4 linked regions of the Homo sapiens genome follow. The protein of the gene in region 1 interacts with the protein of each later gene in a pairwise test. Each region holds a gene or a part of one and is shown in the gene's direction. Other genes may lie near its edges. The genes, in order: ARHGAP45, PDE4DIP, ZUP1 and RINT1.

Region 1 (7,023 bases):
CCTGGCTTCCTGCCTGGGCGGCTTCTCTGTTCTCGTCTGTGAGGAGGGAAGTGAAAGCAAAAGAGCCCGGAGACGCTCCCGTGGGGGCTGGTGTGCGTGTCTGCAGAGGCTGCCGTGTGAGCCTCTGTGCAGAGCTTGGCTGCACCTCAGCTTCCCGGGCTGCAGAGTGGGCACACAGGACACCCATTTCTCCGAGTGTCCTGTTACGGGTGCCTCCTCCCGTTCTTTTTTTTTTTTTTTTTTTTGAGCTGGAATCTCTGTTGCCCAGGCTGGAGTGCAGTGGTGCATGCAATCTTGGCTCACTGCAACCTTCGCCTCCTGGGTTCAAGCTGTTCGCGATTCTAGTGCCTCAGCCTCCCGAGTAGCTGGGATTACAAGCGTGCACCACAATGCCCGGCTAATTGTTTTAAATTTTGGGTAGATACGGGGTTTCACTATGTTGGCCAGGCTGGTCTCAAACTCCTGACCTCAAGTGATCCACCTGCCTCGGCCTCCCAAAGTGCTGGGATTACAGACGTGAGCCACCGCGCCCGGCCACTCCTCCTGTTTTTCCGCTGCCGATTGTTGTGCAGGGTCCTCTGCATGCCCAGCTGGGCCATGGGGCCTTGCTGAGAGAGATGGGGGTGGGGAGGAAAGGAGGAGCTGGGGAGACTGAGTCCCATCCGAGGATAGGGTTGGAACTGGCCTCCTGGCTCCCACACCCACAGCAAGAGGCGGAGTCCAACCTGCGCAAGGCCAAGCAGGGTTACGTGCAGCGCTGCGAGGACCACGACAAGGCTCGCTTCCTCGTGGCCAAGGCGGAGGAGGAGCAGGCTGGCAGCGCGCCGGGAGCAGGCAGCACGGCCACCAAGACCCTGGACAAGCGGCGGCGGCTGGAGGAGGAGGCCAAGAACAAGGTGAGGGCGGGTGGAGGCAGGGCTGGAGGTCCCTGGAGGAGGAGATCCAATGCTTGGTGTGACATTTACTACCTCCAGACCTTTGTTTTTGTTTTTTTGTTTTTTTGTTTGTTTTTGAGACGGAGTCTTGCTCTGTCGCCCAGGCTGGAGTGCAGTGGCACAGTCTCGGCTCACTGCAAGCTCCGCCTCCCGGGTTCACGCCATTCTCCTGCCTCAGCCTCCCGAGTAGCTGGGACTACAGGCGCCCGCCACCACGCCTGGCTAATTTTTTGTATTTTTAGTAGAGACGGGGTTTCACTGTGTTAGCCAGGATGGTCTCGATCTCCTGACCTCGTGATCCGTCCACCTCGGCCTCCCAAAGTGCTGGGATTATAGGCATGAGCCACTGCGCCCGGCCAATTTGTTTTTTGGAGACAGAGTCTCATTCTGTTGCCCAGGCTGGAGTGCAGTGGTGAGATCTCACTGCAACCTCCGCCTCCCAGGTTCACACAGTTCTCTGCCTCAGCCACCCTGCCACCAAGCCCAGCTAATTTTTTTGTATTTTTAGTAGACACAGAGTTTCACCATCTTGGCCAGGTTGGTCTCAAACTCCTGACCTCATGATCCACCCACTTCGGCCTCCCAAAGTGCTGGGATTACAGGCATGAGCCACCGCGCCCGGCCCCGATTTTTAAATTATTATTATTTTTGAGACAGTGTCTTGTTCTGTCACCCAGGCTGGAGTGCAGTGACGTGATCATGGCTCACTGCAGCCTCTACCTCCTGGGCTCAAGCAATCTTCTCGCCTCAGCCTCTAGAGTAGCTGGGACCACAGGCGTGTGCCGCCACACCCAGCTAATTTAAAAAAATTCTTGGCCGGGCGCAGTGGCTCACGCCTGTAATCCCAGCACTTTGGGAGGCCGAGGCAGGTGGATCACAAGGTCAGGAGATCAAGACCATCCTGGCTAACAGGGTGAAACCCCGTCTCTACTAAAAATACAAAAAATTAGCTGGGCGTAGTGGTGGGCGCCTGTAGTCCCAGCTACTCGGGAGGCTGAGGCAGGAAAATGGCATGAACCCGGGAGGTGGAGCTTGCAGTGAGCCGAGATCGCGCCACTGCACTCCAGCCTGGGCGACAGAACGAGACTCTGTCTCAAAAAAAAAAAAAAATTCTTTATAAAGATGGGGGTCTCAGGCTGAGTGTGGTGGCTCACACCTGTAATCCCAGCCCTTTGGGAGGCTGAGACGGGCAGATCATATGAGGCCAGGAGTTCGAAACCAGCCTGGGCAACATGGTGAAACCCCTGTATCTCTACTAAAATTACAAAAAATTAACCGGGTATGGTGGGTGGGGGGCACCTGTAATCCGTTACTTGGGAGGCTGAGGCAGAATTGCTTGAACCCGGTAGGTGGAGGTTGCAGTGAGCTGAGATCGTACCACTGCACTCCAGCCTGGCCTACAGAGCAAGACTCCATCTCAAAAAAAAAAAAAAAAAGATGGGGAGGGTCTCACCATGTTGCTCAGGCTGGTCTCGAACTCCTGGCCTCAAGCAAGTCTCCCACTGTGGCCTCCCGAGGCGCTGGGATGACAGGCGTCAGCCCCGCCTCCCTGAGGTTTCTGTCTGAGTCCTGCACCCCGGGCTGAGGCCTCTCTCTGTGCGCCCCGCCCCCACCGCAGGCGGAGGAAGCTATGGCCACCTACCGCACCTGCGTGGCCGACGCGAAGACGCAGAAGCAGGAGCTGGAGGATACCAAGGTGACGGCGCTGCGGCAGATCCAGGAGGTCATCCGGCAGAGCGACCAAACCATCAAGTCGGTGCGTGGGGTGCTCCGGCCGCCCGGGCGGGGATGGTGGACCGGGCGGCCTCCTCCTGACCCCTCCGCTCTCCGGTGCCGCCCGCAGGCCACGATCTCCTACTACCAGATGATGCATATGCAGACGGCGCCGCTGCCCGTGCACTTCCAGATGCTGTGTGAGAGCAGCAAGCTGTATGACCCAGGCCAGCAGTACGCCTCCCACGTGCGCCAGCTGCAGCGGGACCAGGAGCCCGATGTGCACTACGACTTTGAGCCCCACGTCTCCGCCAACGCCTGGTACCGCCACCCAGCTGCCCTGTCCCCGGCGCACAAGGCCCTGCCTGGGAGCCGGGCTTCCCTCTGTCGGGGGCATGAAGATGAAGCTGTCTTGCCCCCCATCACCTCCCCTCCTTTTCCCGGTTTCTTCCACTAGGTCCCCCGTCATGCGTGCCCGGAAGAGCAGCTTCAACGTGAGTGATGTGGCGCGGCCGGAGGCTGCCGGGAGCCCCCCAGAAGAAGGCGGGTGCACTGAGGGCACACCTGCCAAGGACCACAGGGGTGAGTGTCCGGCGGGGCCCAGGGGCGGACGCTGGCTCCCTGCGACCCACCCTGGCCCTTCACCAGAGACGCCTCTTTCTCCAGCCGGGCGAGGACACCAGGTTCACAAGTCATGGCCGCTCTCGATCTCAGACTCGGACAGTGGGCTGGACCCCGGCCCTGGCGCAGGTGAGGGAGGCTCTCTGGCGGGCTGGGGTGTGGAGCTGCCTCCTCTCCTGAGCCTCAGGGTTTCATCACCCACCGGGGTGATGGAGGGGGCCCCCCTGGCTGGGGGAGTCTGAACAGTCCTGATTCCCGCCCAGGGGACTTTAAGAAGTTCGAGCGGACGTCATCCAGTGGTACCATGTCGTCCACGGAGGAGCTGGTGGACCCAGACGGTGGAGCCGGGGCTTCAGCCTTTGAGCAGGGTGAGGGTCCCCTGACGGGGCTGGAGAGAGAGGGGGGTTTGGACACAGTCCATGGGCCTGGCCCTGAGCTGCCTTGGTGACACCGGCTGCCTGTGCTGCCCGCAGCTGACCTCAACGGCATGACCCCCGAGCTGCCGGTGGCCGTGCCCAGTGGACCGTTCCGCCACGAGGGGCTGTCCAAGGCGGCCCGTACTCACCGGCTCCGGAAGCTCCGCACGCCCGCCAAGTGCCGCGAGTGCAACAGCTACGTCTACTTCCAGGGTGCTGAGTGTGAAGAGGTGAGTGGGACGCCCCGACGGACAGCTGGGAGCCTTCGGGAGCCTTTGGGGTGCCCAGCACCGCCGGCCTGTGTGCCCTCAGGAATGTCCGGCCCAGAGCAGGGAGCAGTCGGACGCCTTTGGAAGGAAGCGAACGGAGGGGGTGGGGTGGGCTCTTTTAGTTCTGGGGAGCAGGGTTGGCTCTCTGAGGCAGCGAGGCAGGGGGCAGACCTGGAGGGTGAAGAGTCCTGGGGCTGTGGCCAGAAGACCTGGAGGGCAAAGGCCCTGGAGCTGTGTCCAGAAAACCAAGGGGCGGGAAGGAGAGGAGGCCACAGGGCAGGCGGGATCACCCCTGGGGTGGAAGCCACGAGCCACTGTCCAGCTTGTGTTTGCAGAAGCTGCCGTGTGGGGGCTGTGAGCGCCCCGGGGAGGTGGGGTGGAGCCGCTGGGGGCTGCGCTGAGCTGGGCGCCCCGGGGCTGGGCTCACTCACTCTGGCCGCCCCCAGTGCTGCCTGGCCTGCCACAAGAAATGTCTGGAGACGCTGGCCATACAGTGCGGGCACAAGAAGCTGCAAGGCCGCCTGCAGCTGTTCGGCCAGGACTTCAGCCACGCGGCCCGCAGCGCCCCCGACGGCGTGCCCTTCATCGTCAAGAAGTGCGTCTGCGAGATCGAGCGGCGGGCGCTGCGCACCAAGGTGAGGCGGGGGAGGAAGCGGCTCACAGCGAGGAGGCGGGAGTGGGCCGAGGCTGATGGGCCTCCCCACCCCCGGGCTCCCGCAGGGCATCTACCGGGTCAATGGGGTAAAGACACGCGTGGAGAAGCTGTGCCAGGCCTTCGAGAACGGCAAGGAGCTGGTCGAGCTGTCGCAGGCCTCGCCCCACGACATCAGCAACGTCCTCAAGCTCTACCTGCGTCAGGTGAGACCCACCGGTGGTGGCCAGGCAGAGCCTGGAAGGGGCGTAGCCAGGCAGGAGGAGGCGGGGTGGGGGTCCGGGAGCTGGAGCAGGACTGAGCTGGAGCAGGACTGGCGCAAGCGGGGGCCTGGGGAGGACAGGGTGGGCGGGACAGTGCCTGGCAGGGCAGGGCTGAGGCTGGGGGCGTGGTCACGGTAGGAGCGAGGCGGGGCCAGTTCTGCGCCGAGGCACGGACAGGGACAGGAGGGGCGGGGTGGGGCTTGGTCAGCACGTGGCAGGGGTGTGGCCACGGCAGAGGCACACCTGACGCTGTGCGGGGGCGGGGCCGGGGCCGGGGCTCGGTGGGGCGTGGCCAGAGCAAGATGGGCGTGTTCAGCGCTTGGCAGGGACCCGTATGAGGCTAGGGGCGGGGCTGAGGCTAGACAAGTGCGGGGCTGGCGGTGGGGCCTGGGCTTGGTGGGGCGAGGCTGGGGCCAGGGGCGTGGTCATCCCCGGGGAAGGGCGGGACTGGGGCTAGGGGCGTGGTCATGTCTGGGGAAGGGCGGAGCTGGGCTGGGATGGGAGTGGGACCAGCACTTCGCAGGTGGTTGGGAAGGGGTCAGACTATGCTGAGTGGAGCCGGAGCTCGTTAGGGTACCTGCAGGGCGGGGCGCGCGTGGCCAGAGCGAGAAAGGGAGTGGAGCTGCGGGCGTGGCCCGGGTAGGAGGGGCAGGGCTCACGCTGGGCTGGGAAAGGGGACTGACGCCGCTCTGGGTGGAACCCGAGCTCGGTGGGGTGTGGCCAGTGCTCTGTGGGGGTGGGGCTGAGGCTGGGGGCGTGGCAGGCACACGTGGGGGCTGGGCCAGGCCCACCAACACCTGCTGACCCTTGACTCTGCGCAGCTTCCCGAGCCGCTCATCTCCTTCCGCCTCTACCACGAGCTCGTAGGGCTGGCCAAGGACAGCCTGAAGGCAGAGGCCGAGGCCAAGGCGGCGTCCCGGGGCCGGCAGGACGGCTCGGAGAGCGAGGCAGTGGCGGTGGCCCTGGCAGGTCGGCTGCGGGAGCTCCTGCGGGACCTGCCGCCTGAGAACCGGGCCTCGCTGCAGTACCTGCTGCGTCACCTACGCAGGTGAGTCCCGGCATATGGAGTGGAGGGCGCGGGGTCCCGGGAGCCGCTCAGCACCTGGCCCCTGCCCACCCCGCAGGATCGTGGAGGTGGAGCAGGACAACAAGATGACCCCCGGGAACCTGGGCATCGTGTTCGGGCCCACGCTGCTTCGGCCACGGCCCACCGAGGCCACCGTGTCCCTCTCCTCCCTGGTGGATTATCCCCATCAGGCCCGCGTCATCGAGACTCTCATCGTCCACTACGGCCTGGTCTTCGAGGAGGAGCCGGAGGAGACCCCCGGGGGCCAGGTGAGGGTGTGGGCCTGACCGGGGCTGGCCACTCGGGGCTTGGGGAGCAGGGGGCGCTGCTGGGGACAGTCGTTGTCGGATGAAGCCCAAGGAACCACAGGGAGATAATTTGGTTTGGACAGGGCTGTTCGGGAGGCCACTGTCTTTTTGTGTCTTTTATGCAAAAAACTCAGCGAGGTCTGCATTGAATCTGGCAGAGGTGCAAAGGCTCTGCGGCCGCCCCTCCACTCTCCCTTGGGGCTGGCCTTGGGCCTCACCCTTCACCCCCAGCTTCCTTCCCCGTTTCCCATCCCGGTGCTGCCTGCAGCCACAAGCTCCACGCTGGCCCGGTGTCCACAGCCTGCCCGAGCTGCCACTGCACTCCGCCGCGAGGTCAATTCCCCGCTTCAGATTTTCTTTTCTGGGAGTTGTAGTTTCGCTCCTGCTGCCCAGGCTGAAGTGCAATGGGGCGATCTCAGCCCACCACAACCTCCGCTTCCCAGGTTCAAGCGATTCTCCTGCCTCAGTCTCCCGCGTAGCTGGGACTACAGGCGCCGGCCACCACACCCGGCTAATTTTTGTATTTTTAACAGAGATGGGGTTTCACTTTGTTGGCCAGGCTGGTCTCGAACTGCTGACCTCAAGTGATCCGCACCCCCCTTGGCCTCCTGAAGTGCTGGGATTACAGGTGTGAGCCACTGCACGCGGCGTCTCGTATTCTTTCAATCCATCTTCCCTGGGTGTTTAGGGGCTGCGGTTTCTCGGGTTTGCTCTTGGCTGAGGACAGACCGCCTGGGCAACAGCGGGTGTCAGTAGCTGTTACGGGCTGTGTGGGTGGGT
Region 2 (7,023 bases), on another chromosome or scaffold:
TTCCTGAGCCTTGGCTTTCTTGTATATAAAATTAGGGGGCTGTGGTAGGTCTCAGGTTGCTTCATGCTCTGGGGTAAGTCTGAGTTAATTGCGGGCTGAGATGTTGGTAAGAGGTAGTATTAGGAACTGTTGTGAGGACCAGACCTAGCCCTCAATTAAGTGTGTTTCCTGCAGGAACACCATGCTGAGCCTTTGCCTTGAGAATGCGGAGCTGAAAGAGCAGATGGGAGAAGCAATGTCTGATGGATGGGAGATCGAGGAAGACAAGGAGAAGGGCGAGGTGATGGTTGAGACTGTGGTAACCAAAGAGGGTCTGAGTGAGAGTAGCCTTCAGGCTGAGTTCAGAAAGCTCCAGGGAAAACTGAAGAATGCCCACAATATCATCAACCTCCTCAAAGAACAACTTGTGCTGAGTAGCAAGGAAGGGAATAGTAAACTTACTCCAGAGCTCCTTGTGCATCTGACCAGCACCATTGAAAGAATAAACACAGAACTGGTTGGTTCCCCTGGGAAGCACCAACACCAAGAGGAGGGGAATGTGACTGTGAGGCCTTTCCCCAGACCCCAGAGCCTTGACCTTGGGGCTACCTTCACAGTGGATGCCCACCAAGTAAGTGTGGGCTTAGATTGAGTGAAAAACAATTGGAGAAGGGCTTGAGATGACAGTGTTTACCTTAAAACATTCTCCCATATGAATCAGGAGGTACCAAGAGAAGGGTCTCTTTGTACCACAAACAATAATAGTAATATTCTGCCTACATTCAGCCTTTAGAAAGGCTTTTATAACATAAATATTTCTTGAGTACTTAATTTTTCAGATAACACACTAGGCATTGGCATGGGGCAATAAAACCAATGGCTGCCCCTGAGATACTTAATATTGTCGGGAAAGATGGCACACAAACAGGTAATTTTAACAGGATGTGGTAACTGCTGTAACATAGGGATGCATCAGGTTATGAGGCAGCCCAGACAAGTGGTATGTAATGACATCCCTTATCACTGCCATTTTTTTGTCACAGCTCATCACAGGTGTCTGTTCCTGGGCTTCAGATGGGTTACTGGGATCCTCTTTAGGGAAGGAGCCATGCTGAAGATTCAGTGAAATGGAGAATACAGGGATTCTGAGAGAATCAATGGGACAGAATGTGAGGGGAGATGAGTGGTCTCTTTTTGACCACTGAGAAAACATTTCCTGAGAGCTCCTCTGTAGACTTGATTGGTGCTGTGCTGTGTGCTGTGGATACAGATATGAAGAAAACATTATCCCAGCGCTCCAGGAGCTCCATCTGGAAAGCAAGTCACTGCCAAATGGCATGAGAAGTGCTGTGACAGACTTGAGTAAAGTCCACAGGGTTCAGAAGGGGCGGTGGTCGTCACTGCATGGGGGTGACCTCAGACTGTCCTGATCCCTGTATTGGCCCCTTTCACAGTTGGATAACCAGTCCCAGCCTCGTGACCCTGGGCCTCAGTCAGCGTTTAGCCTACCAGGGTCCACCCAGCACCTGCGCTCCCAGCTGTCACAATGCAAACAACGCTATCAAGATCTCCAGGAGAAGCTGCTGCTATCAGAAGCCACTGTCTTTGCTCAGGCTAACGAGCTGGAGAAATACAGAGTTATGCTTAGTAAGTAACTATGACTTACTAGTAAAGAAAACTAGCCTATATGTCTTATAAGTTCTGTATGTTCTATACCGACATAACGTGGTTATTGAGCACACGAAGTGTGGCTAGTGCAACTTGGACATTTGGTTTTATTTAATTTTAGTTGATGTAGTATAAAGTGGCCATATGTGGCTGCTAACTACCTTATTGGACAGTACAGGTCTAGGGTCTTGGGACTCTAAATTAGTTCAGCTCCATTCAACATTTATTGAACCCCTGCGGATAAAGCACTTGCCAGCTTCAATGGGGCTGCTAGAGATGATAGTGTACAATCCCTGACTTACAGATATCTGGTCCCAACTAAAGCCTGGGTTATCTGAAGGGGAGATAATGGCAAATGCAGGCTCCTCCTTTGGAAAGAAATTCTGCTTCCTGGAGCTGGTGATCTCTTCTCCCACCAGTTCAGAGAAGCTTCTCTCCCACTGTGGATCTGCCTTCCGTGCCTCAAAAGGTTAGGGTATGTGCCATTGAGGCTGAGGGCATATGTGGGAAATTCAGACATTCTGTAACACCTGCTTCTCTTCCCAAGCAGGTGAATCCTTGGTGAAGCAGGACAGCAAGCAGATCCAGGTGGACCTCCAGGACCTGGGCTATGAGACTTGTGGCCGAAGCGAGAATGAGGCTGAACGGGAGGAAACCACCAGTCCTGGTAAGAGCACAGGGTGTGGGGCTCACCCCTCCCTGGAGTCAGCTGTCACATTTGGATGCTGTTGGCCAATTCCACACCTGACAAGTATTGGGGAAGAGGAGGACAGGAGGTTAATAGGAGAAATCTTACCCAAAATGAGGCTGAGTATAAGTTTGAATTTCTACAATTAGTTTTTGGCATACTGCTAATAACAATAATAATATAAAATTCTATCCAACTGATTATTATAGAAATACTAAGGCCTACTTAGAGACCAGATAAGGTTTTAGAAACATGCAAGCCATAAATTAAAAATAATTTTGTTTTGCATTATAAAAAGACTACAACTATAGGGCCACCCACCACATTGAAAACCAGAAGAGAAGAAAAACACAATCTCTCTCATTCTTGAGGCAGTGTAGTGTGGCAGTTAAGAGACAAGATCCTGGGGCCAGACTGGTTGGTTCAAATCCCAGTTTGAAAACTTTCCTATGTCCCAGTTTCTTCATGTGTTAAAATAGTAATAAAGGAACTACCTACCCCATCAGGTACTAAGGTCAATTAAATGAGTAAATTCTTATAAAATGCTTTAGAACAGTGCCTGGCATCTGGTAAAATGCCATGGATTAGTTCTCATTCTGACTACCACTGCCCTAATACACTGATGTTAACATGCTGATATATTTATTTGAAGCCTTATTTTCCTATGCCTATTTTTCATACAGTTGTAACCCAATAAACTTTTAAATTATAGTAAAATTTAAAGAGCATTAAACTTTCAGCATGCAGTAATAGCTTGTCCTACATTCTTGTGGCCATCCTAAATAGATAAGGCCATGTTAATGTCTTAAGAAACACCAGTGTGTGTGGAATGAACACAGGACATTGGAGGATTTGAATTCTGGCTCTGCCATGTGCTAGTTTGAGTGATCTAGAACAAGCTAGTTTACCACCTCTCTTTAAGTTTTGGTTTCCCAGTCAGTAAAATAGAAAGTGATGAAACCTAACTTGTAGGTATAAGGAAGATAAGAAATATTGTATTTGAATGCCTAGTACAGTGTCAGGGTTGAATAAAGTACTACTTCAACTTTTTCCCTAGTAATTATTGTCCTCATGACCAAACCTGCCTCCTCTCAAAGGCAGTGGCCACAACAGCACATCCAACTTTTATTTAGGAAGACATCTTTGTCTTTTTTCAGAGTGTGAGGAGCACAACAGCCTCAAGGAAATGGTCCTGATGGAGGGGCTGTGCTCTGAGCAGGGACGCCGGGGCTCAACACTGGCTAGTTCCTCTGAGAGGAAGCCCTTGGAGAACCAGCTAGGGAAGCAGGAAGAGTTCCGGGTATATGGAAAGTCAGAAAACATCTTGGTCCTACGAAAGGACATCAAAGATCTGAAGGCCCAGCTGCAGAATGCCAACAAGGTCATTCAAAACCTCAAGAGCCGGGTCCGGTCCCTCTCAGTTACAAGTGATTATTCGTCTAGTCTGGAAAGACCCCGGAAGCTGAGAGCTGTTGGCACCTTGGAGGGGTCTTCACCTCATAGTGTCCCTGATGAGGATGAGGGGTGGCTGTCTGATGGCACTGGGGCTTTCTACTCTCCAGGGCTTCAGGCCAAAAAGGACCTGGAGAGTCTCATCCAGAGAGTATCCCAGCTGGAGGCCCAGCTCCCAAAAAATGGACTAGAAGAGAAGCTGGCTGAGGAGCTGAGATCAGCCTCGTGGCCTGGGTAAGGATGGCACTGTTTGGGTACTTTCTTGATTGAAAATGTGTAAGTTCATGCTTGGCGTAGGGTAGCTCAGGCAGTTGGAAGAAAGAACATGTCTGGGTATTCACAGGGACACTGATTTAAATGGTAGATACAGGTCTGCAGAAAAGACAGGTAGGCAACCAGGAGGGCATAGGATGATGTTCCAGTATCTGGGAGATACCGGGTCTCAGGGATTTCCTCTTAGGGATATATTAGTAAAGATGGTATAGTATAGTAGTAATACTGGAATCAGACTACCTACCTCTGGTGCTTACTACCCATGCAACCTTCTTAACCTTTCTGAGCCTTTGTCCTTACCTATTAAATGAGGATGATAAGAGAACCCATCTCAAAGGGTGGATATTAGGTTTAAATGAATTAATACAACTGCTGACCAGGCGTGGTGGCTCATGCCTGTAATCCCAGCACTTTGGGAGGCCAAGGCAGGTAGAACACCTGAGGTCAGGTGTTCGAGACCAGCCTACCCAACACGGTGAAACCCCATCTCTACTAAAAATACAAAGATTAGCTGGGCATGGTGGTGCACACCTGTAATCCCAGCTATTCGGGAGGCTGAGGCAGGAGAATCGCTTGAACCTGGCAGGTGGAGGTTGCAGTGAGCCGAGATGGCACCACTGCACTCCAGCCTGGGTGACAGAGCAAGAGTCTGTCTCGGAAAAAAAAAAAAAAGAATTAATACAAGTGCTTAGAATAGTGCCTAGCATATGTTAAGCTCTCAATGCTATTTGCCATAGTTATAAGTGTTATTGATACTTAGTGTTGAAAACACAGACATTCATCTTGGTGTGTCCTGGTTATCTATTGCTAAGTAATAACCACTCTAAAACTTAGTGACTTCAAACAACACTTTATTATGCTTCATGGTTCTATGGTTTGACTGGGCTCAGCTGGGTGGTTCTCACTTAGGGTCTCTTGTTTTGGGTCCCATCAGTTGATGGTATGAGCGTTTAAATGATGGCCATCATTGCAAAATGTAGTCAGCCACAGTATCGTAACATAGAAGAAATTCAGGCATCAGGTGGTGGTTAAAACAGAAGGCATGAAAGGTTCTATCTAGACTTAGGATGAAATGATGCTAATTATTCATTGAGTAACTGCTGTGAATCTATGTGATACTGGTGCTGTAAGGGATGTAAAATGCAGAACTATGTTTATTCTCACAGACCTTATGATTTATCTAGGGACATATAATTAACACATGTATAACAGTTGAAGAACAGTGACATACTAAATTTTTTTTTGATACGGAGTCACTCTGTCATCCAGGCTGGAGTGCAGTGGTGCCGTCTTGGCTAACTACAACCTCCACCTCCTAGGTTCAAGCAATTCTCCTGCCTCAGCCTCCCGAGTAGCTGGGATTACAGGCATGTGCCACTATGCTCAGCTCATTTTTTTTGTATTTTTAGTAGAGGCAGGGTTTCACCATATTGGCGAGGCTGGTCTCAAACTCCTGACCTTGTGATCTGCCTGCCTTGGCCTCCCAAAGTGCTGGGATTACAGGCGTGAGCTACCACGCCCGGCCCGTACTAAGTTTTTTAATGCAATACTTTATCAGGGTAGAATTTACTCTTAAATACCTCCTATGGCTTATGTGCCAGAATTCAGCTTGGGGGAGTTCCTTAGAGATGTTCTCATAGAAATCTCTACAGAAGCCCCCATAACTCCATAAGTTAGCTTCCACTCTTTCCATACTTACACTTTCCTCTTCTGTCCTGCATTAGGAAATATGATTCCCTGATTCAGGATCAGGCCCGGGAACTGTCTTACCTACGGCAAAAAATACGAGAAGGGAGAGGTATTTGTTATCTTATCACCCGGCATGCAAAAGATACAGTAAAATCTTTTGAGGATCTCCTAAGGAGCAATGACATTGACTACTACCTGGGACAGAGCTTCCGGGAGCAACTCGCCCAGGGAAGCCAGCTGACAGAGAGGCTCACCAGCAAACTCAGCACCAGTAAGTTGGCCACAGGGCTTTGGAATACTCTCAGTCACCCCCACAGTTCCAGCCCCTGGTGGCCACCACATCTCCACTGCAACTTTTTATCCTAAGGTCCTGTTTCTATTTCATTTCCTGGGGCTAATACAGGATCAAGACTGCTCAGTGGGGAGCATGGAGAGGAAAACACAGGGCTGGAGATGCCATGGTTACAACTATAGAAACTTCACCACTAATGGAATGTGACCTGTGGGGCAGGGGCAGCATCTCTCTGATGCTAAGAGGGAGTAGGGGACATGAGATGGAAGGGCTTTGTTATAGGAGGAAGAGCCCTGAACCAAGAACTACAAGACTCAAGCTCTGGCCTGGATGCTGCCACCAACTCGCTAAATGCCTTATCCTTGTGGTGTCTCCATTTATGGCATGGTAATGTGCATGCAGGTACTCCACATATGGATAAAGCGCCATGCTCTTTTATACATGGTTTAGGCACTGGCTGCAGTAGTTCAAGGGCTACATTGGTTATTATTGGGGTCTTCTACTCAGAATTTCCAGCGACTATCCAAGGGAGTAAAGTAGGATCAGACTTGGGAGCCACCCAGCCCACCACCTGGTGGCAGATGCAGAGGTGGGGCAGGGCTTCTTGTCATCTCCTCAGAGACCAGTGCAGGTTCTGCATGAAAGCTGTGGTGGGGCATATGCATTGGGGAGCTAGTCTGCAGCAGGACATGGAGGCTGGAGTGTCCCGCAGGGCAGCTGGGCAAGGGCCTCATGATTAATGGAACAAAAGACATTATAAATGTTTTACCCTGATTTAGGGCAGAGGAAGTCATCATGGTGACCGGCAGGTCAGGGACAGTGGGGTCACTTCTCTAGAGACACAAGCTGAGGTATCCCAGAATAACTGTTCTGGATGCACACATGAAATGCTCACTACTCTGTCTCCAGATAGGCTCCTGCATTTGTAATGCGGGAAGTGGGACCAGCCTAATTTCTTATCGTCTCTTTCTAAATTTGGTTT
Region 3 (7,495 bases), on another chromosome or scaffold:
TGTATCATTGGATAACTTCCTAAAAGTTGACATCTGTTAGGTCTTTCTCTTGGGACAATTGATTTCTCTGGGGAGGAATTTTCCAACCTCCTGCCTTGGAGGCAGAAATCACATATCAAGATGTGATGGGGGAAAAGGAGCAAGAGGTTCATAATTTAGTATTTAGCCTTCCCTATTTCCCATTTTCAGTCCAGTGCCTTTACCCTAAGGATAGGGTCAAGCCTTTGAACCCCCAGGATAGGGTTCATAGCTGGTTTTTTTGGTTCGTTTTCTTCATGAACTAAATCTGTAGTCTTCTATCTGGAAGGGAAAGAGGAGTCTCATGGCAACCTAGCTGTATTAGAGTTCTTCAGAGAGACATAACCAATACTATATACGAGAGGCAATTTATTAGGGAATTGACACATGATCACAGAGGTGGAAGTCCCACAATAGGCCATCTTGCAAGCTAGAGCACCAGAGAAACTGGTAATGTGGCTCAGTCCCAGCAGCCTCAGAACCAGGGAAGCAGAGGGTTTGGCCCCCACTCTGAGGCTAAAAGCCCAAGAGTTCCTGGGAAGCCACTCGTGCGAATCCCAGTGTCTAAAAGATGAATATGGTGCAATCTGATGTCCAAAAGCAGGAAGGAAAAAGGTGTCTTGTTCCAGAAGGGAGAGAGCAAAGAGAGAGAATTCCCTCTCTTTCCTGTTTGCCCCAGCCTAGCCCTCAGCTGACTGTATGGTGCTTGCCACACTGAGGGTAGGTCTTCCTCTCTCAGTCCACTGACTCACAGGTCAATCTCCTCTGGAAACACCCTCACAGATACAGCTAGAAACAATGCTTCACCAGCCATCTAGGCATCCCTCAATTCAGTCAAGTTGGTAGTGACGGGGTTTCACCATATTGCCCAGGCTGGTCTCAAACTCCTGAGCTCAAGCAATCTGTCTGCCTCGGCTTCCCAAAGTGTAGGATTACAGGTGTGAGCCACCATGCCTGGCCCCATACCTTCCACTTTCTTTGCTTCTTCCCTCATTTGGCGGGAGCTTCCTGGGAAATAATAAGAAATAATGTTTCAGGAGAAATTAACCATCACACTGGTGATGGAGAAAATCTAGAGTTGGAGTTCTAACTGTTCCTTATTCAGACTTTCAGTAAAATGATCCTTTATTTAGTTCCAAATGTCACCATCATTTTTAGAAGTATCTTGTGTTTAATTTCTGGAATTTTCAGATTTCTGGGAAGGAGGAGTGTATTAAGATGGAGTAGGGACCCTACTTAGGGGCCCGTGGGCAACCCCCAAGCATGGAAATAAAGGAAAATATTGAGTTCCTTCAAGGAAAATTCCAGGAACCTAGCTAGCGCTGAGAAATAAATGAGCAATTTGATAAACAAAAAGGTAATAGTAGCTTAAAACATTGGCCCAAAAAAGTCAGGAGATGTTTTATTCCCTATAGAAACTTAAGATAACATTTTAACATATGTCCCTGGGTTGTTTTCCAGAAACCCAGATCCCCCACCAAACAGATCTACTGTCCAACATGATTTGACCCCTGATAATGGGAAACTGAAGACTAAATCCTGATCGCTGTTCTTTGTTCTGAATTTCTTCCTGAGGGGCCTGGAGGAGATCACACCCCTGAGCGAGAGCTAATATTCTTTTCTGCTGATCCCAAATTTTTAGACAAAGCTTTGCCTCCTTAGCAAATCAAACGTCAGAAAATCTTTGAATCCACCTGTAACCTGTGCCCCGAACCACTTCAAGATGTCCAGCCTTTTAAAATCAAACCAACGTATAGCTTCCGTGTATTGATTTATGACGTCGCCTGTAACCTCTGCCTCCTCACCTTTAAAAACTCTTACCTGTAAGCAATGTGGGAGTTCAGGTCTTAAGCATGAGCTACTCAATTCTCCTTCCTTGGTGCCCTACAATAAATGCCTCAACTTTCTCTTGCTGCTATCCCAGTGTCAGTGTTTGGCTGTGCTGTGCTGGGCAAGCAGACCCCAGCTGCTGTGCTGGGCAAGCAGAAACCCATACAAGTCAAGACAGTATGACTTGACTTGGTTTTTGTTGACATCGGTTCTGAGTTAAGTTCGTTATTAATCATTCATCTTTTTTTAGCTTTCAAAGTTTTGTAAAATCTCATTAGCTGTTAGTAGTATTATTTTTATTTTCCTGCTATCATTTTAATAGATTTTGAGAGGCAGAGAAATATAAATTTACATGTTTAATCTTCCATGTTTGTCCACAAATTTCCAGAACGATTTTTTTTTTTGAGACAGGTTCTCATTCTGTCGCCCAGATTGGAGTGCAATGGTGCCATTATGGCTCACTGCAGCCTCAACCTCCTGGGGCTCAGGTGATCCTCCCACCTCAGTCTCCCGAGTAGCTAGAATTACAGGCCACATCACCACGCCCAGCTAATTTTTGTATTTTTTTGGTTGAGACGGGTTTCTCCATGTTGCCCAGGCTGGTCTGGAATTCCTGGGCTCATGCGATCTGCCCGCCTCTGCCTCCCAAAGTGTTGGGATTACAGGCGTGAGCCACCGCGCCTAGCCAATTTTTAAAAACATACTATTTATCATCAGATAACATCACCCTCCTATTTAAATACCTCACTAGTTTTCTACCAGGTCCTACATGATTTGGCCCCTGTCTACAACCCTAACCTCATCTTGTAATCATTTTTCTCCTTACCACATTATGCTCTGGTCAAAAAGTGTTCTTTTTGCTCCAGCCTTAGGCCTTCGTTCTTGTTATTTTATCTGTCTGAAATGCTATTTCCCCTGTTGGTGTAAGGTTTGTTCATCAGCACACTCAACCCTTCATCAAGACCTTTTCTAAACATTCGTATCTCTATAATCCAGTTTTCTTTTCTTTCTTTCTTTCTTTTTTTTTTTTTTTTTTTGAGACTCAGTCTCAAAAATCTATTGCTCTGTCACTCAGGCTGGAGTGTAGTGGCACGATCTCAGCTCGCTGCAACCTACGCCTCCCGGGTTCAAGCAATTCTCCTGCCTCAGCCTCCCGAGTAGCTGGGATTACAGGCACCTGCCACCACGCCCAGCTAATTTTTGTATTTCTAGTAGAGACGGGCTTTCACCATGTTGGCCAGGCTGGTCTTGAACTCCTGACCTCAAATGATCTGCCCGCCTCGGCCTCCCAAAGTGCTGGGATTACATATGTGAGCCACTGAGCCTGGCCAATCCAGTTTTATTTTCTTCATAGCACTTATCATGATCAGTTAATTTACTTTTTATTTCCTCTACCTCACCAGCATGTAAGCCTCAAAAATCCTGAATTTTGTGTATTTTGATTACTGCTGCAGCTCCTGTTGCAAGCAAAACGCCTTTCTAATAGACACTCTTTAAATATTTGTTGAATGAAATAAAGCCTGAATGACAAGATATTTGTGATTTTGGGCTAACATGGTGGCTCACACTTTGGGAGGCCGAGATGGGAGGATCATTTGAGGCCAGGAGTTCGAGGCTGCGGTGAGCTATTTTAGCCACTGTGCTCTGGCCTGGGTGACAGAAAGAGTCCTCCTCTCTAAAAATACATACATACGGCCGGGCACGGTGGCTCACGCTTGTAATCCCAGCACTTTGGGAGGCCGAGGGGGGCGGATCACGAGGTCAGGAGATCGAGACCATCCGGGATAACACGGTGAAACCCCATCTCTACTAAAAATACAAAAAATTAGTCAGACGTGGTGGCGGGCGCCTGTAGTCCCAGCTACTTGGGAGGCTGAGGCAGGAGAATGGCGTGAACCCGGGAGGCGGAGCTTGCAGTGAGCAGAGATGGCACCACTGCACTCCAGCCTGGGCGACAGAGCAAGACTCCGTCTCAAAAAATATATATATATACATACATACATACATACAAACCAAGATATTTGTTATCTTGTAACCTTGAGGAAAGAACCTGGTATCCTTTACCTTCGGTGCATAGCTGGGAGCTTGATACCTAGCAGCATTATAAACCCTTTATTGATACTAAAATAGAGTGCTACTCAGCAGGCCCTAGTGTAGACTGCTATTTGCCCCAGGACCTGCCCTGTGAACTCATTCAGATTAAGTATGAATGACCTCAGAGCCCGGTTTTCTCTCCTAGCAATTGAGTGGCAGGAAACTCGATGGGAGAAGGAAAAACTCGGAAATGGGAGGAATGCAAAAATGACTACATCTCTCAGGAGATCGAGACCATCCTGGCTAACACGGTGAAACCCCGTCTCTACTAAAAATACAAAAAATTAGCCAGGCATGGTGGCGGGCGCCTGTAGTCCCAGCTACTCGGGAGGCTGAGGCAGGAGAATGGCGTGAACCCGGGAGGCGGAGCTTGCAGTGAGCCGAGATCGCGCACTGCCCTCCAGCCTGGGCAGCAGAGCGAGACTCCGTCTCAAAAAAAAAAAAAAAAAAAAAAGACTACATCTCCCAGAATGCACTGCATAGAGACCGGCGTGGAGCGGCGCATTCTGGGATTACTTCTTTTCCGTGGGAGTAAGGAAGTGCTTTTGAATGAGGTACTGAGGGCCAAGGTGTTGGAAGTTCCTAATTCTTTCCTCGGTTAACTGTGAAACTCTGCGTATTGGGAAGGCCTGGCCTCAGTCATCAGGCCAGGAGAGGTACTGGACGCCGCGCACGCACTCGTCTGCCAGCGAGGCCCAAAGGGGAAGCCTAGCGGAGCTCAGTGTGGCAGCTGCTGGCCTCTGGGCCGGTAAGAATTGATGGTCCCCTCCCTTATTCCCCAGGCCCAAAGCTTTGACCCAGTTAGTGCCTGCTAGTTTCGTGTGCCTGGCTTGTGCCTTTGGCGCGGAACGTTTGGGAGACTCGGCCTTGCGGTCTTCTGACCTCACCCACCACGTACCTAGCTTGGCACTGGGTCCTTCATGCCTCTCACTCGCTTCCTCTGAGGCACCTGGGTACTCTCTTGTCTCTTACCCGCTTAATCTGAGTCCATGTCCAAGTTCATCATTCTGTGTCTGACCGTGTCCCAGCCACCGGAAGAGAAGAAACTCCGGGTGTGACATTAATCCCACTGGGGGCTCGGGAGAACTGCCTTCTAAAATCAGAGACTGTATCCATTTGTCTGGAGAGAAATGAAAAAAATAAGGACAATGTAGGGAGGTATTTTAAAGGTAAATTTATTTAAATGAAGTGATAGTGTCATTACTTTTCCTGTTTGATTTTAAATAGTCTTTAGCTGAACGATGACCTGTAGTAGGAAGGTGGTGGCGAAGTGATTGCTTTTTTTAAAATTATTTTTTTAACACTTTTATGTCAGTAGTCAGTACTTTATTTGTCCATAAAATCCAAAAATAACTACCTTTGGATTTTACAGTAGTCTTTGACTGAACCTCAGAGAGATGAGATTCCTTACCCAAAATGATGAATCTGAAATTATTACCCAGTTCTCTTGACTCTGGAATAAGTGCTTTTTTCTACTATACCACTTCTGCTTTTATTCTTGGGGCTGAGAGTACAGGCTGTGGAGCACGACGGGGTTGGCATTTTGGCTTCCACCTTTTTCTGCTTGTGGTGACCTGTCTGAGCCAGAATTTCTTTATGTGTAGAGCGATAATAATAGTACTTAAATTACAATAATAGCACTTAAATAGCACTTGATACATGTAAGACTCTAAGTTTACAGTGTTAAACTCTACTTGTAAGATGTGTTTATTTACCTCCTCAATATAATCAGCTTCAGTATTCAGTATTTAGATATATCAGTTGATAAATAGGTTTCTTCTCTTCATTTTTTTCTTACCTGATTTATCTTACCTGGACAATTTTTTAAACGTTATTTTTTCTCCACCTTGGGCCAGAGACATTTTTTGAAATATTTTATTTTTAAAATTACTTGTATTCATTATTATTGCCTTTTTTTAAAAAAAAATAAATGAAATTTTGGTTGATATTTATAAATAAGTTTTTGTATTTGAGGAACAGTAAGTACATTGAAAACTTCTTCATCAAAATAATCCAGCGTTAAAGACCAAGTAATTGTCTCAAATCATTTTATGAAACACATTTTTTCTTCAAATCTTTGAAACCTAATGTTATGTTCTTTTCTAGCTACTTGTCAATACCATGCTTTCCTGTAATATTTGTGGTGAAACAGTAACCTCAGAACCAGACATGAAAGCTCACCTAATTGTTCACATGGAAAGTGAAATTATATGTCCATTTTGCAAGTTGTCAGGTGTGAATTATGATGAAATGTGTTTTCATATCGAAACAGCTCATTTTGAGCAGAATACACTTGAAAGAAACTTTGAGAGGATAAATACAGTACAATATGGAACTTCAGATAACAAGAAAGACAACACCCTACAGTGTGGAATGGAAGTTAATTCAAGTATTCTTTCAGGTTGTGCATCTAATCATCCAAAAAATTCAGCTCAAAACCTGACTAAAGATAGTACTTTAAAACATGAAGGCTTCTATTCAGAGAACTTAACTGAATCTAGAAAATTCCTGAAAAGTAGGGAAAAACAGTCCAGCCTGACCGAAATAAAAGGATCTGTTTATGAAACAACATACAGTCCTCCTGAATGTCCATTCTGTGGAAAAATAGAGGAGCACAGTGAAGATATGGAAACTCATGTGAAAACAAAGCATGCCAATCTTTTAGACATTCCATTGGAAGGTAAAGTTTTCATTTCATTATAAATTATAAGTTTACAGCCTCAATTTAATATGTGGTATTTTAAAAGTTGGTTTGTAAGTCAGCTTACTACAGATGTGTTTTGAAATCCATTTTATGTCTATAACATTTTTCATTTGCTGTTACTGAAATATAAAAGTACATTATGGAAAAGAATTTTAATGCAGATATAAAATGTTTCAGCTACATTGAGAGTAGTTTTGGAACTTTCTGTCTAGTTTCCAGAGGGTATTCTTTTTATTGTCACTAACCCAGTAGCATCTGGACTGTCCTGGACTCTCTGACTTTGCATTGAGTTCTATTTTGACTCCATTATTCTGTTATGATTGGAGAACAAACTCTCTGTGATATCAGTTCTTTTAAATTTGTTGAGGCCTGTTTTATGGCTCAAGACACGAGCTATCTTGGTCATGTTCTGTGGATACTTGGGAAAAAAAAGTGTATTCTGCTTTGTTGGGTGGAATGTTATATGTATGTCACTAGATCCTGTTGTTTATGTTCAGATTATTTATATCCTTGCTTGTTTTCTATAGTAGTACTGTCTAGTAGTTCTATCAATTTTTGAGAAGGGGTTGTTGAAATCCCTGATTATAATTGTAAATTTATCTATTTTTCCTTTCAGCTCTGTCAGGTTTTGTTTCATGTATTTTGAGACTCTATTGTTGGTGTGTACACATTTAGGATCTTATGTCTTTTTCTTATTGTTGAACTTTAAGAATTTGTGGAGCCAGGTGTTGTGGCTCATGCCTGTAATCCCAGCAAGTTGAGAGTCCGAGGTGGGCAGATCCCTTGAGTCCAGGAGTTCGAGACGATCCTGGGCAATGTGGCAAAAGCTCGTCTCTTCAAAAAAAAAAA
Region 4 (7,023 bases), on another chromosome or scaffold:
CCATATTGGTCAGGCTGGTCTGGAACTCCTGACCTCAGGTGATCCACCTGACTTAGCCTCCCAAAGTGCTGGGATTACAGGAGTGAGCCACTGCGCCTGGCATGTACTTGGTATTTCTGCTCTTAAACCTGTATAAGACATGCGTAGTTTTTGTAATGCAGACTAGCAATTTTTTTTTTTTGGAACGAAGTTTCACTCTTGTTGCCCAGGCTGGAGCGCAATGGTGTGATCTCGGCTCACTGCAACCTCTGCCTCCCGCGTTCAAGCGATTCTCCTGCCTCAGCCTCTTGAGTAGCTGGGATTACAGGTGCCCACCACCACGCCCAGCTAATTTTTGTATATTTAGGTGAGACGGGGTTTCACCATGTTGACCAGTCTGGTCTTGAACTTCTGACCTCAGCTGATCCACCCACCTCGGCCTCCCAAAGTGCTGGGATTACAGGCATGAGCTGCCACGCCTGGCCAGCAATTTTTTTCTTGATTTACTTTTTGAAAATAAAAACCATAAGAAAATAATATTAAAATTATTTTCAAATGCTATTTCAAAAAATATAGGCCATCAGTTCTTTGTAATACTCATCATTTTACATATTATTGAAGTGCTAGGTTTTAAATATATATGGCATTGTAAATTTATGAGTTTATTGACTTAAGTCATATTATTGAAATTTGTTGGGAGTACATTAGCAAACATTTGATTATTAAGCCTTGCAGGAGTTTAAAATTTGGAGTAGAAATTGTGCTCTTACATACAGGAATTTTCAACTAATTTTTATAAGTGTTGTGCATATACAATTAAATAGAACCATGTAATTGTAACTTTCTAATTGGAATGACTTAAGAATTCAAACTATTTTCCTCCTTCCTTAGCCAGAATGGTACTTGGCTCAAGTACTTATGTGGATTGGAAACCATACTGAATTTCTGGATGAGAAGATTCAGCCAATATTAGACAAAGTAGGCTCTTTGGTAAACGCAAGGGTAAGAGACTCAGTCATAAGTGTTTCTGTTTTAGAACTGTATGTGTGCATGGATAACTTTTTATTTACATACCTCATGTTTGTGTATTTTTTTAGCTTGAATTTTCTCGGGGCCTTATGATGCTGGTTCTTGAGAAGTTAGCCACTGATATTCCTTGTCTGCTATATGATGACAATCTCTTCTGTCATTTGGTGGATGAAGTACTCTTGTTTGAAAGGGAGCTACACAGTGTTCATGGCTATCCTGGCACTTTTGCTAGTTGTATGCATATTCTATCAGAGGAAACCTGTTTTCAGAGATGGTTGACGGTGGAGAGAAAATGTAAGTGCTGATGTGGCCAGATGGTAGGGAGATATGTCTGTTTCTGTGGGTATACATTTTTGATATTTTTCTTCTCCAGTTCTAAATAGGAACTAGAGCCATTTGAAATTTCCTTTTCAGGGTTTTCTGTTTCCTTCAGAGATAATCTTTTCTTTACTTCACATGAAACTTCCATTTTTCCTGAAATTACACTCTACATATTTCTAGAGTGGAATAGTCAAGCCAGTGGGGTGTTTGTTTTATAGATTTTATCATATAATTTATTTTATTTTTATTTATTTATTTTGGGACAGACTCTTGCTCTGTTGTCCAGGCTAAAGTGCAGTAGTTTGATCTCAGCTCATTGCAACCTCCACCCCCTGCGTTCAAGCGATTCTCCTGTCTCAGCCTCCCGAGTAGTTAGGATTACAGGCACGCACTACCACGCCTGGCTAATTTTTCTGTTTTTAGGAGTGACAGGGTTACAACATGTTGGCCAGGCTGGTCTGGAACTCCTGACTTCAAGTAATCCACCTGCCTTGGCCTCCCAAAGTGTCAGAATATTTTATTTTTTTATTTTTGAGATAGGGTCTCACTTTGTCACCGAGGCTAGAGTGGAGTGGGCCGATCATGGCTTACTGCAGCCTCGACCTCTGGGGCTCAGGTGATCCTCCTGCCTCAGCCACCCCAGTAGCTGGGAGTATAGGTATATGCAAGCCATGCCTGGCTACTTTTTGTATTTTTTGTAGAGATGGGGTTTCCCTGGGGTTTTGCCCAAGCTGGTTGTGAACTCCTAGACTCAAGCAATCCACCCACCTTGGCCTCCTGGAGTGCTGGGATTACTGGTGTGAGCCACCGTGCCTGGCCAATAGAATATTTTTTACTGTAGCTTATCTAGTCAACATAACTATTTTCAGAATTTGGGGATGGGAGTAAAGTATCCTGTTTAAAGCATTAATTAAGTTAAATTTAGTACAACCAGTGGGATATTGTAGGTTTGTTTCTTTTTTATAGAAAAGCCATCATTCCTAAAAAATTACAAGTTGAATAATTAGGAACGACTGTAACTACTTAATTGACATAATTGTTTTGTCTGCTTATCAGTTGCTCTTCAAAAAATGGACTCAATGCTTTCCTCAGAAGCTGCCTGGGTATCGCAATATAAGGATATCACTGACGTGGATGAAATGAAAGTTCCAGATTGTGCAGAAACTTTTATGACTCTACTCTTGGTTATAACTGGTAAGTATGTCTTTTAAGATATGACTTTGTTTTAAAAGTACTGTTTTCACGTGGTAGTTTTTAAAGTAGCTCAGTAGGCTGGGTGCAGTGGCTCATGCCTGTAATCCTAGCACTTTGAGAGGCTGAGACGGGCAGGTTGCTTGAGCCCAGGAGTTCGAGAACAGCCTGGGGTACATGGTGAAATGCCCTCTCTTCCGAAAAAATACAGAAATTAGCCAGTTGTGGTGGTGTGTGCCTGTAGTCCCAGCTACTTGGGAGGCTGAGGTGGGAGGATTTTTTGAGCATGGGAGGTAGAGGTTGCAGTGAGCCATGATCACGCCACTGCAGTCCAGCCTTGGTGACAGAGTGAGACCCTGTCAATAAAGTAATCAATAAATAAGTGGCTCAGCAAATTAATATTATATGATGGTTGTTATCTTCAAATTCAGTTTCTATATTGGTAGAAATCTAACACAATATTCTAACTTTTGGGTTTTTAATAATTTAAGGATTTAAACATTGGTATACATGAAGGAAAACTTCCTGAATAATTACACAAAAACAATTAAATAGGAATTTAATTTTATTATCCAAACTGTCTTGCTATTGGGCTTTTTAGGTGTCTTCAGTAAATGGTGATTGGCCTATATTTTAAATATTGTCTTGATCTTGATTTATCAAAGATTGCAGAAGAGAGTAAAATAATGAAGTAATTTTAAGGATTGGAGTAGTAATAGGAACTTTTGTTACAGTGCAGGGATTCTCTGGCTGGAGGGTAGCCTAGCATCCTCTGGCCCTGGTTGGTCTTTAGCCAATCACGTTGCCCCCTTGTGGGCCTGCTTGTTGTCCAGGTGCCACTGGACCCTCATTGCCACCATCCCTGGCCCTCTTCACCTTCGTCAACCACTAGCCTGTCCGTTTCTTAGGCTTGTCTGGTAACCTGAAGAAGTATCATTCCAGCCCAGTCAGTAAATAATTCCTTTTTTTTTTTTTTTTTTTTTTTTTGAGATGGAGTCTCACTCTGTCACCCAGGCTGGAGTGCAGTGGCATGATCTCGGCTCACTGCAACCTCTGCTGCCCAGGATCAAGCAATTCTTTTGCCTCCGCCTCCCAAGTAGCTGGGATTATAGGCACCTGCTGCCACGCCCAGCTAATTTTTGAATTTTTAGTAGAGACGGGGTTTCACCATCTTAGCCAGGCTGGTCTTGAACTCCTGACCTTGTGATCCACCTGCCTCGGCCTCCCAAAGTGCTGGGATTACAGGCATGAGCCACCGTGCCCAGTCATCATTCCATATTTTTAACTATAAGAAAAATATGAAAAATACTAAGACAAAAAAATTAAGGAAAATTCATGTCTCTTAAAAACTTTTTATTCAGAAAATTTTCAAACATACACAAAAGTAGGATAATATGATGAACTCTCAGGTACCTATTGCCAAAGTTTAAAGCAATTATCACTTTTCTGTTATATTTTACTCCTCAATTTTTTTTTTCTGGAGTATTTCAAAGAAAATTTCAGACATCTCATCATGTCAATTGTAAATTCTTTTTTTTGAGACAGAATTTCGCTCTTGTCACCCAGGCTGGAGTGCAATGGCGCAATCTCGGCTTACTGCAACCTCCGCCTCCTGGGTCCAAGCAATTCTCCTACCTCAGCCTCCTGAGTAGCTGGGATTACAGATGCCTGCCACCATGCCTGGTTAATTTTTTTTTGTATTTTTACTAAAAATACAAAAATTTACAGGCAGTTGGCCAGGCACGGTGGCTCACACCTGTAATCCCAGCACTTTGGGAGGCTGAGGTGGGCAGGTCACGAGGTCAGGAGATCGAGACCATCCTGGCTAACACAGTGAAACCCCGTCTCTACTAAAAATACAAAAAAATTAGCCAGGCATGGTGGCGGCTCTACTAGAGATGGGGTTTCATATTGCCCAGACTGGTCTCGAACTCCTGACCTCAGGTGATCCACCTGCCTCGGCCTCCCAAAGTGCTGGGATTACAGGCGTGAGCCACCATGCCTGCCTGTAAATTGTCTTTTTTTTTTTTCTTTGAGACAGAGTCTCGCTCTGTCGCCCAGGCTGGAGTGCTGTGGCGCAATCTCGGCTCACTGCAAGCTCCACCTCCTGGGTTCACACCATTCTCCTACCTCAGCCTCCTGAGTAGCTGGAACTACAGGCACCCGTCACCATACCCAGCTAATTTTTTTTTTTTTTTTTTTTTTTTTTTTTGAGATGGAGTCTCACTCTGTCGCCCAGGCTGGAGTGCAGTGGCGCCATCTCAGCTCACCGCAAGCTCTGCCTCCCGGGTTCACGCCATTCTCCTGCCTCAGCCTCCCGAGTAGCTGGGACTACAGGCACCCGCCACCACACTCGGCTAATTTTTTGTATTTTTAGTAGAGATGGGGTTTCACCGTGTTAGCCAGGATGGTATTGATCTTCTGACCTCGTGATCCACCCGCCTCAGCCTCCCAAAGTGCTGGGATTACAGGCGTGAGCCACTGTGCCCGGCGAATTTTTTTGTATTTCTAGTAGAGACAGGGTTTCACTGTGTTAGCCAGGATGGTCTTGATCTCCTGACCTCGTGATCCACCCACCTCGGCCTCCCAAAGTGCTGAGATTACAGGTGTGAGCCACCGTGCCCGGCCAACTGCCTGTAAATTCTTAAATGTGTATCTTTTAATTTATTGAAGTTCTTTCTTTTTTAAAAAAATGCTGTTTATTTGTGTTGAAGAAACTGTCATTTTTTTTTCTTTCTTTTTTTTTTTTTGTTAGATGGAGTCTCACTCTGTTGCCTAGGCTGGAAAGCAGTGGTGCCATGTTGGCTCACTGCAACCTCCACCTCCCGGGTTCAAGCAATTCTCCTGCCTCAGACTCCCAAGTAGCTGGGATTACAGGCACACGCCACTACTGCCCGGCTAATTTTTGTAGTTTTGGTAGAGATGAGGTGTCACCATGTTGGCCAGGCTAGTCTTGAACTCCTGACCTCAGTTGATCCACCTGCCTTGGCCTCACAAAGTGCTGGGATTACAGGCGTGAGCCACCACGACTGGCCAAAACTGTCATTTTTATGTATAATTTTTTCATTTGCCTTTTTGAAAACTTGAGGTATAGTTTACATACAGTGTAATGTGCAGATCTTATTTGTATTGTTCAATGAGTTTTGGCAAATGTATATACTTTTGAAACTCACATCCTTAAGAGAGCTCAGAAATAAATCCATTCTTGACTACTGGTCAATTGATTTTTGACAAAAGCACTGAAGCAGGACAGTAGGGAAAACTTATAACTATATCATAGATGGTACCAAAACCTTCATATGTCTTAATAACTTTTTCCACAGACAGGTATAAAAATCTTCCCACAGCTTCCCGAAAGCTTCAGTTCCTGGAGTTACAGAAGGACTTAGTAGATGATTTTAGGATACGATTAACACAAGTGATGAAAGAAGAGACTAGAGCTTCCCTTGGCTTTCGATACTGTGCAATTCTTAATGCTGTGAACTACATCTCAACAGTACTAGCAGATTGGGCTGACAATGTTGTGAGTTAATATGCTTTTATATTAAGTAATATATACTAGTTCGAACTATTTTATTAATACTTTTCAAAATGTTGAATCTATTGCAAGCAAAAATAAACATGCTAGACAGAACCATAGTGCCATAATTAAAAGGTGTAATTAAAATACACATTTTTCTCAATCAAATCTCAAGTAGTTAAATAGTCCTGATATTTTAATGTATTTAATCATTGGAAAGGCAAGCAAGCCTTTCATGAAATAGTTGTTTATAGAGTGAACCATACTTGGAAATATTCATGTATGGTAATTGCAATCACAGGAAGAGCTAAGATTAAATAATGATGTCAAAAGCAATCCAGGACTTTAAGGAAAATAAAAGAATAATGTTTAATACCTCTTGAATGTCTTCAAAACATGACAGATTATAAAGAGTCATGAAAATAGGAAGAAACATTTAAAGTTTTAATTGTTTCATACATTAAAAATCTATTTGGCTGGGTGCAGTGGCTCATGCTCTTAATCCCAGCACTTTAGGAGGCTGAGATGGGAGAATTGCTTGAGCCCAGGAGTTGGAGACCAACCTGGGCAACATAGGGAGACCCCATTTCTCCAAAGAATAAAAAATAAAATAAAATTAGCCAGGTGTGGTGGCATATGCCTGTAGTCCGAGCTACTTGGGAGGCTGAGGTGGGAGGATCACTGGAGCCCAGAAATTCATGACCAGCTGTGCAACATAGTGAGACCCTGTCTCTACAAAAAATAAAAATAAGAAACTAACATTTCATGTATCAAATTTTCAAATATATGCAAGAGTAAATAGAATAGGAAAATGAACTTCTGTGGCGTGGCTATCACTCAACTTCTTTTTTTTTTTTTTGTGACAGAGTTTCGCTCTTGTTGCCCGGGCTGGAGTGCAATGGTGCGATCTCGGCTCACTGCAACCTCTGTCTCCTGGGTTCAAGGGATTATCCTGCCTCAGCCTCCTGAGTAGCTGGGATTAC

Evidence for each region.
Region 2: the proteins of ARHGAP45 (region 1) and PDE4DIP interact in binary tests that used the Homo sapiens proteins (3 or more experiments, as listed by UniProt).
Region 3: the proteins of ARHGAP45 (region 1) and ZUP1 interact in binary tests that used the Homo sapiens proteins (3 or more experiments, as listed by UniProt).
Region 4: the proteins of ARHGAP45 (region 1) and RINT1 interact in binary tests that used the Homo sapiens proteins (3 or more experiments, as listed by UniProt).

The regions. Positions count from the first base shown.
Region 1 is NC_000019.10:1,077,150-1,084,172, forward strand, and holds part of ARHGAP45 (rho GTPase-activating protein 45 isoform 1 precursor), read left to right. Parts: intron 1-246; exon of another isoform or gene 247-617; coding exon of another isoform or gene 618-707; coding exon 708-896; intron 897-2,553; coding exon 2,554-2,691; intron 2,692-2,778; coding exon 2,779-2,969; intron 2,970-3,105; coding exon 3,106-3,230; coding exon of another isoform or gene 3,231-3,314; coding exon 3,315-3,398; intron 3,399-3,532; coding exon 3,533-3,637; intron 3,638-3,742; coding exon 3,743-3,915; intron 3,916-4,400; coding exon 4,401-4,589; intron 4,590-4,674; coding exon 4,675-4,812; intron 4,813-5,690; coding exon 5,691-5,917; intron 5,918-5,993; coding exon 5,994-6,204; intron 6,205-7,023. UniProt on the Homo sapiens protein: Contains a GTPase activator for the Rho-type GTPases (RhoGAP) domain that would be able to negatively regulate the actin cytoskeleton as well as cell spreading.
Region 2 is NC_000001.11:149,001,417-149,008,439, forward strand, and holds part of PDE4DIP (myomegalin), read left to right. Parts: intron 1-174; coding exon 175-610; intron 611-1,433; coding exon 1,434-1,626; intron 1,627-2,194; coding exon 2,195-2,314; intron 2,315-3,492; coding exon 3,493-4,021; intron 4,022-5,784; coding exon 5,785-6,020; intron 6,021-7,023. UniProt on the Homo sapiens protein: Functions as an anchor sequestering components of the cAMP-dependent pathway to Golgi and/or centrosomes.
Region 3 is NC_000006.12:116,665,761-116,673,255, reverse strand, and holds the start of ZUP1 (zinc finger-containing ubiquitin peptidase 1), read left to right. Parts: upstream 1-4,489; 5' UTR 4,490-4,690; exon of another isoform or gene 4,691-5,111; intron 5,112-6,048; 5' UTR 6,049-6,063; coding exon 6,064-6,622; intron 6,623-7,495. UniProt on the Homo sapiens protein: Deubiquitinase with endodeubiquitinase activity that specifically interacts with and cleaves 'Lys-63'-linked long polyubiquitin chains. Shows only weak activity against 'Lys-11' and 'Lys-48'-linked chains.
Region 4 is NC_000007.14:105,549,185-105,556,207, forward strand, and holds part of RINT1 (RAD50-interacting protein 1), read left to right. Parts: intron 1-870; coding exon 871-981; intron 982-1,076; coding exon 1,077-1,302; intron 1,303-2,385; coding exon 2,386-2,523; intron 2,524-5,843; coding exon 5,844-6,043; intron 6,044-7,023. UniProt on the Homo sapiens protein: Involved in regulation of membrane traffic between the Golgi and the endoplasmic reticulum (ER); the function is proposed to depend on its association in the NRZ complex which is believed to play a role in SNARE assembly at the ER.